Linked DNA regions of Homo sapiens. The protein of the gene in region 1 interacts with the protein of each later gene in a pairwise test. Each region holds a gene or a part of one and is shown on either strand. Other genes may lie near its edges.

Region 1 (4,263 bases):
CCCTGTCTCAAAGCAAAAACAAACAAACAAAAAAACCCATGACTATCTGAAATTATTTTGTTTGCTGTTTATTCCCCCTACCCAAATAGATATAAGTAAGGTTTTGGAGAGTGCATGTGCATTTGCTGTATGTGTGACTCTGTCTCTAGTGCTCACAGCTATTCCTGCTACAGAGTAGAGTAGCTGCTCAGTAAATACTGGCTGAATAAATGATTGACCTATCAATCACTTGCTATTGTTTGCATGAATATAAGGATTCCATGCATCTTCTTGTTTCGTAGAATTGTCTTGGGGCTGCAGTTGATAAAGGAATCTACAATCAACTTTTTAACCCAGTCCAGAGTTGTTGTATGTACACTCGAGACCCAAAGGAAGGACAGAGAATTTTCCTCACCTCAGCCCAAAAGGAGGCTGGAATGCATGCTTGCCTGCCACAGTTTCCACTTACTTACCACCATCAGTCAGCAGGCTTTTAGGAGAGAATTGCACGTGTGATTTATTTGCAAATCCTTTCAGGTCCTGGAGGAGAGATACTTGGTACACAATGCACTTTGTCATCACGTGTCAACATCCCCTCAATGCAGGGAGCAGCACTACACGATGTAAAGGTGGAACTGGATTGTGCTGGGATCCTTCAATCAGCATTTCATTTAGAGCTGCAGCATTTGCAGAGCCATTTGCAATTGATGCCAGCCCCTTGGAGGGGGTCAGCGTGTAGAAGACAAAGGACAGCCATAAAGCCACTGAATGCAAACTTTATATTTACAGTCAGTAAGTTTATAAATATATATTACATTCTTACAATCTACAGTACATTCTACACGCAGATGGATTTGGAAGCGGGCAGCGGCTGCAGTATTCAACAGAACATGACACAGGTAAGAATGGAAAGAAATATGAGGACGTTACTGAAAGCAAAGGATTCTCATTGAAAAGGGGTGACAGCTTAATCACCCAACCAAACAAGGTAGGTAAGCTTGCGGACAGGAGCAGGTGACTTACTGGCTGCAGAAACCTCAGTCTCAAGAGCACCACAGTTGCAGGGGAGAGGGCTAAGGTTGGGAGGGTAAACTGGTGAAATTTACACACACATGATCTAAAGAGAATTCAATTCTATGGAGAGGAAGAAGGAGTAAAGACACACACTCAAAATTACAGAGATGAGATGGAGAGGAAGCAGGGAGAAGATAGGTTCAAAGGAGGAGAGAGATACAGAGACAGACACACAGAGAGACTGGAAAACAGACAACTGAAGAGCAGAGAGAGAGAGAAAATGACCAGAGGGAAAAATAGAAGATCAATTCAACAGCACGGCCTCTTCTGCCCACCACCCGCTGCCCCCGACCATCTTTTGCAGGATCCTATCTGGCTGGCAATCACCCAACACACCATTCTCTACCTTGGAGTGAGCGTGAGATGAGGCAGGAATTCTCTGATGTATCCTTGCCCCCATCTTCATAGGCTTCATAAGTGAAGGGATTCAGGGATATCCAGAGTCATGGCTGGTCTTAAGCAATGCTGAACCTTTCGGGGCTGACTGCAGGACCAAGTGCTTGCAAACCTGCATCTTCACCACATGCACTGATGCCCCTTATCCCTTCGCACCTCCAAGATGAAGAAGGTTTCTGTGCTGTCCGGTGTGTGTGAGGCTGGGCTTCCTGCTGGATCCACCACTTTCACACCCAGAACCCCCCCAACTCCACACGCCCTGCACGTTCCACACAGGCACCCCGATTTGTCTCAACAGCCTCGAGGCCACATCTTTGGACAGGAGATCTGCCATGAACAGTGAAAGACCCATCCCAAGTGGCCCTGTTTTCTTTCTAGTAAAGCAAGGGAATGTATATCCCCTGGTATGGAATTCACCGTGACTACCGCCCATGCCTAGAGACCAGCCTCTTCAAAGACGGACGGCGTGGGACATATGCCCAGGTTGCGGGGGGAGCTTCTCTACAGAATGTCACTTGGGAGTTGACACAAAACCCAGGGGGAGAAAAAAGACCCAGCAAATACTACAAACTGCCCTCTCCCTCCCCCACCCACAGGTGACCAACGGCTTTGGGGAGGATGGCAATGCAGTGGAGGAATAGAAATGGATACATTGTGAACTTGATATGAATCAAAAGAGCGTGGTTCTTTGAACCTGATTCAAATTCTATGCCCAGTATCCTTAGTTTACAAATAAAGAAGTACCCTGAAGGGCTCAGAGGATTTGCGTCCATGTGTTTGTCCTTGGCATGTAGTTACAAAGGTATTTGTGGCCTGTTAGCCCACATGTTCCCTTTCAGTCCTTGTCAGCCACTTCCTTGGCCTGTCCATGATCTGAGACAGCTCTGGCCCAGCCTTTGAGAGACAATGACTCACAATCATGCCTCCCACAGCTGACGGCGGCACTGGACTGCCTGTGATCGCGCTCACAGCAAGATGTGCTGCTCCAGTTTCGATGACACGCTTCCTCCCATTGATCCATGGATGCGATCCATGGATGCTCCACCTGAGTTGTACTTTTCTTCCATAGTCTGCAATATTGAATATTGGAGCCATGTGGATTTTACAATATCCAAATTGCTTTGATTCGAGAGAGAGAGGCTGTTCTTTCCTGGACGCTCTCAGACGCTCAGTGATTCAGAACTCGTTTTTGTTTCAAGTCTTAAAAATCTTGCCATGCATGATAAACCTCTTAAGCAAGACACTGTACTCTGGAATGTGTGCGTCGATGCGGACTCCAGGCCTCGCCGCCGAGCCGGGGTCATTGGCTGAGGCTGTATGGATAGTGTCATCCTTATTTTGTCCTGCTGCTTTGTTTCTCTTCCGGGGGCACCGTTGCTACACATCCTGGAATTAAAGGCTGAAAGGTGAGTGAGAACCAATGTCTGTGTGTGTCTGGCTTACACATTTTCATGTAACCTCTCCATGTAGTTGTGCAGCTCTTTGCAGTCCCCAGGGTCCAGATCCTGGCAGACCCACTTAATGTCATCCTCGCTACTCATCACGATGGAGTTCCTGGTGGGGTACTCGTCGTCTGAGGAGACGGCGGTGAAGGTGGTAAATTTTACCCTTTTCCTTTTTGAGGTAGGGGATGTTGGGGGCTCACTTTTCTGATCTTTCCCATCAATGATGATGGGTCCCAAAGGTTTGAACAGCTGCCCATTGATGCTTTTTTGGGAGTTTGTGCTGAGGAGATATTTACTTTCCTCGAAATCCATGCCCCTGTCAATGGCAGTGATTTGCTCATCTTGCGAGGAGGCAAAGTTGATGTGATTCTCCAACAGCTCTGTCCGGTTGCTTAACCCAACCCAGTCATGAGAGTGACTCATCCCTTCCTGCTCCTCGAAGGGAACCTGTTTGTGTCTGTATTTTAATGCAAAGGTCACACAGTTTATCAAGAAGACCAAAATGGCCAAACAGAAGACTCCCAACAAAGCATACATCCCAATTTCTAAGTCGCTCAGCCCTTTGGATGCCTGCATAAGGTCATTCCCATCCATTTCCCCATTGCTTCTGGGGAGGTCCACCTGGGCTGGGAAGCTGGTGAGGTCGCTGGGGATGGTCTGCAAGTGGCTGTTGTCATCTAAAAGGCTTTCCTGGCCTTTCTTCTTCTGCAGGATGGACCTGTCTGTCGTGGTGCCCCGTCCCTCCATGAGTCCCATAGAAGAACTGCCATAGTACTGTCCTTCCTGACTCCCCCATTCCTGCGAGGGTTTTTTGGGCCTTCTGTCACTGACATTGTTTTCCATGTGAACCCCTGCCCCTGTGTGTCTGCTGTCACTGGTGTTGGGGTTAGCATCGTTTTGGCCAAATTTAACTTTGATGTTTGCCGTTCCAACAGCTAACACACTCTTCCGCTTGGATTTCTGGCAGGATTCACTAATAACCATTTCCACCTTGACCAGGGTGCCTTGTCCTTCTGTTTCCGCAGCAATGATAGGCCACTTGAATTTGGGGTCTTGGTGGATGGAGACTACCTTCTCATCCAAAGATGTGGCCATCAAGGAGAAGTCTTTCCCATCGTAAATATCCAAGGGCGTGACTGAGCCATCACTGAACTGGACCCAGCAACTGATGGCTGCTTCCTATGGAGAAAAATATGTAAGTTAATCAAATGGGCCAAAAAGCTCATTGAGCCCCAAGTCTTAGTACAGTAGACACACAACGGCAAAACTATTGCTACAAGAACAAAGACAAACCTTTCAAACAGTGTAGAAATAAGCGATAAGAAGTACCAAGAGTATAAAAGAAAATGAATTCTCACAAAGATGCAAA
Region 2 (3,500 bases), on another chromosome or scaffold:
GCTGATTCCATCATCAAATGAGCACAGCAGCATAATTTGCTTTGGCAGATGTGAGGATGTTGTTGGGGGAATGGAGGGTCATTTGAATGAAACATGGACCTGATTGTTGCGCCACTTTCCTTAATAAGCCACTCGGTAACTGTAATACAGTTTCTCTCAGTTGCCTGCTCTGACCTACCTTCCACAGCGGCCAGCCTTTATTCACAGAACAAGAGGTAGAGCAATCTGTAGTCATTTGTTCAGCAATGGGGGAAAAAAAGTCCTAATAAATGCTTCTCATGTGCTAGGTAAAGACAAGGAGGCCCAAAGATAGAAAACGTGGTTGAGCTATCAGTGAGGGGCATGATCCTACTGCCAGTTTAGATTCTTCAAGAAGTAGACAGTTAGAATACCAAAGGATTTATTATTGGAGTAAGCACCTTTGAAAGGAAAAGAGGAAGCAGGACGAGGCAGGGAGAGCAGGCGAGCTGCCATCCCAGGGGAACTCTGGGAAAAAGGTCACTCATTGGAGGAGTCCTGTGTTGGACTGAAACAGTTAGGTCCTTGTACCATGGCCTTGCTTGGTCTTTGGCAAGAGGGCCCCCTCAGAAAAGCATGCTCTCAATTTCCATAATTTAGTGAAATCATTGGCCACCAACCCCTCCTGTCTTGAGAATAGCGTGACCTCAGCTTGAAAGCTAAGGTGGATCCTGGTGAAGTAGCAGCTGGTGGCTGCCAGCTACCCACACTCCTTGCAGCTGGATGGCATATCTTGTCTTGAAGGGGGATCTAAGTGGCACCGCTCTATGCCTGCCATGGTCCACCCCTTGCCTATGTGGATCCATTTTCCCAAAAACACGCAGAGAGTGACTGTTTCAGGGCGCCAATGGACCTCTCTTCCTGAGGATAAATGTTGAAAGAGGAGTTTGGTAGGACCAACTATAGCACCTTCCTGCAAATGGTTTTGGAACCACAACTGGTCCTCATTACTCCCTGCTTCATTCTAAATTCCCCTCACCCACAACTGTCATCTTTGCTGGTCTTGGTGGCTTTTTTGATAGTATAAACCAAGCTCTCATTCCTGAGGGTCCTGAGCTCCTGGGAGCCAAACCCTTCTCAGACCAGGGTTGCTGCACTAGTCCATTCAGTTACAACTGGGCAAGGAGTACAGAGGGTGCCTCCAGTGGGTCCGCTAAGTTCCACACACATTGCTCTCGCCACTATCCTCTGACAGCAGGCTTGCCTCCTCCTGCAGTTCAGGGTCAATTACCCTTGACTAGATGGTGACTTCTTGCCTACTGGTCCCTGAACACAGAGTCCAAAGTGCCCACATAGTAGCAGCAGACTGTAGTTCAATGGGATTCTTGCAATATTGCCTAGAGAAGGTATACAGTCTCTGAGAACTAGGACTTCTGATGCTGTAGAACCTGGAGTTGTGGGCATGGGAAGTACTAAGTCCCTCAGTGGTTCGTTGGGTGCGATGGTAAGTGGGGTCACTCCTGCCTCCACTCCTTGGTTCTGAAATCTATATATTCCTGTTGTAGACACAGCATCATACAGGCTTTCTGATTCAATAAGTATACTGTGTGCAGGAGACGGTGGCACATCTTGGCAGGGTATTGTCTCCCACCTGGCACTAAAGCAGGCCATGCCAACATTCCATCAGTCTAGCAGCTTCTAGGTGGCGCAGTATGTGATAGGAGCAGTGGATCCTATGACCGCTGGCGAACTCTCCCTGATTGGGTGTTAACATGTATAGATCACGTATTCAGCAAATCTACGCTGACAGTTCAGATGTTTTGTAAGTCCTTAGATTGTGTTCAGGACCCTGTAGGCCCGAAAGGAACCACATACCTAGAATAGGAAGTCTGTCCTTGTGTGAATAAACTGCTGGTGCTTCTAGGAAAGAATGAGCCTACCATAGTGAATTTGCTATCAAGCGACCAGTTGGTCTTCACAGCCTCATCAGGGTCTCAGCATTGGTATTTGTTGCAGGCAGGTTGGATAGTCACAGTGAGCAGTGTCTAAGTTGGCCTTGGTAAGTGGGAGCCCATGTTGGTGGGTTCCATCCATAGCCTCCATCTTTGCCACCACTGCCACTTTATGTGTGCATTTTACCAGCACTGAGGTGGGCACTGGCAAAAGCTAATAGAACAGGCTAAGTCATTTCATCTACTTGGTTGTTTAGTGCCTCTTCTCTGGTGGGTGCTATCTAGTGGGCATTAACATGTGATACAGTTTTTCAACTTCTGTGTTCACTCCATATGCCCATCCACATGCCTCTACCCCAGACCTCCTAATCCATGTTTTTTTCCTCCCAAACTCCTGATCAGCTGGCAGGCCATTTTCTGCCACTTCCATAAATATTTTACCTGTCCTCCCTCACAAGGTGAATGATCCAGTGTACCTCAAAAAATTCTGCCCAGTTTTTGCAGGAAGATTGCAATTTTTTTCCCGTTTTTCAATGTCACCTTTGAGTGAAGGTCCATTTTCAGCTTGCAACTACAGAAGATAACTAATCAATAAACCAAGCCCAAGCATTCCTCTTCCTTCAGTGGATCATACAGGTCCTCCAACAACCACAGGGAGGGGGGATGTAGGTGCCACTGTGCAGACATGGCGGTTGGAGTAATTGCTCTTGCAGTTTGCTTATGTCCTCTGGTCTGGCTTGGAACTGCTCCTGTACATATCATTTCCATCTTCCAATGGGCTGCTGCCGATCCTACTAGCTTATGACTTAGTGCTTCCCACAGGACCTAGTTAAGATGAGCAGTTCTGGATACAGCATCACTGGGTCTCAAAGTTCCGTGTCTACCAGGGCCCAGTAGCACAGCAGAGGCTGTTTTTCAAAAAGCATATGATCCTCTCCTGTGGTTAGAACCACCTTCCTTCAGGGCCCCAGGGACCTGCACTGTGATTCTCTCATTGGGCCTTGTCATCTATTCCACACTGCATCTTCTTTCCCCCTACCTCCAATACATAAGATCTGCCACATCACATAATTCAAGCTGCTAATTTCTTCATATCTGTCACTTCTGGTTCTACTTCTAATGATTACCCTTTTTTCCTAATTATGGGCCATAATTTATATTTCTCTGTTTCCAGTAATTTTTTACTGAATGTTGGTAATTATGAGTGTTATGTTGTTTGTTGATGGATTTTGTTATATTCCTATAAATGGTATTGGGTTTTATTCTGATTCACAGTTAAGTTTCTTGAAATTAGTTTGATCCTTCCAAGGCTTGTCTTTAAGCTTTGTTAGGGGAAGTCCAAAGAAGCCTTTGGTCTAGGGACAATTTGACCTCAGTACTAAGGCAACACCTGTTGGAGGACTCCACCTGATGACCCATGCATTATGAGTTATTTCTACTCTGGCTAGTGGAAACACAAACTTTTCCCAGCCCCATAGATGATCTGTAAATTATTTGCTCTACTAATTTCCAGTTACTCATTTCTTGGCTTAAGTAGTTTCTTCTAACACCTTCACTCAACCAAGGACTCCAGGGGACCCACTGCAGATC

What was found. Proteins that work in one complex are often made in the same cells at the same time.
Region 2: the proteins of TMEM132D (region 1) and HEBP2 interact in a two-hybrid assay, tested with the Homo sapiens proteins (one large-scale study listed by BioGRID).

Annotation. Positions count from the first base shown.
Region 1 is NC_000012.12:129,070,987-129,075,249, forward strand, and holds the end of TMEM132D (transmembrane protein 132D precursor), read right to left. Parts: intron 4,090-4,263; exon of another isoform or gene 4,074-4,089; coding exon 2,889-4,073; 3' UTR 740-2,888; downstream 1-739. UniProt on the Homo sapiens protein: Regulate neuronals morphology via inhibition of the WAVE regulatory complex (WCR), a complex that controls F-actin cytoskeletal dynamics.
Region 2 is NC_000006.12:138,417,723-138,421,222, reverse strand, and holds part of HEBP2 (heme-binding protein 2), read right to left. Parts: 3' UTR 1-3,500. UniProt on the Homo sapiens protein: Can promote mitochondrial permeability transition and facilitate necrotic cell death under different types of stress conditions.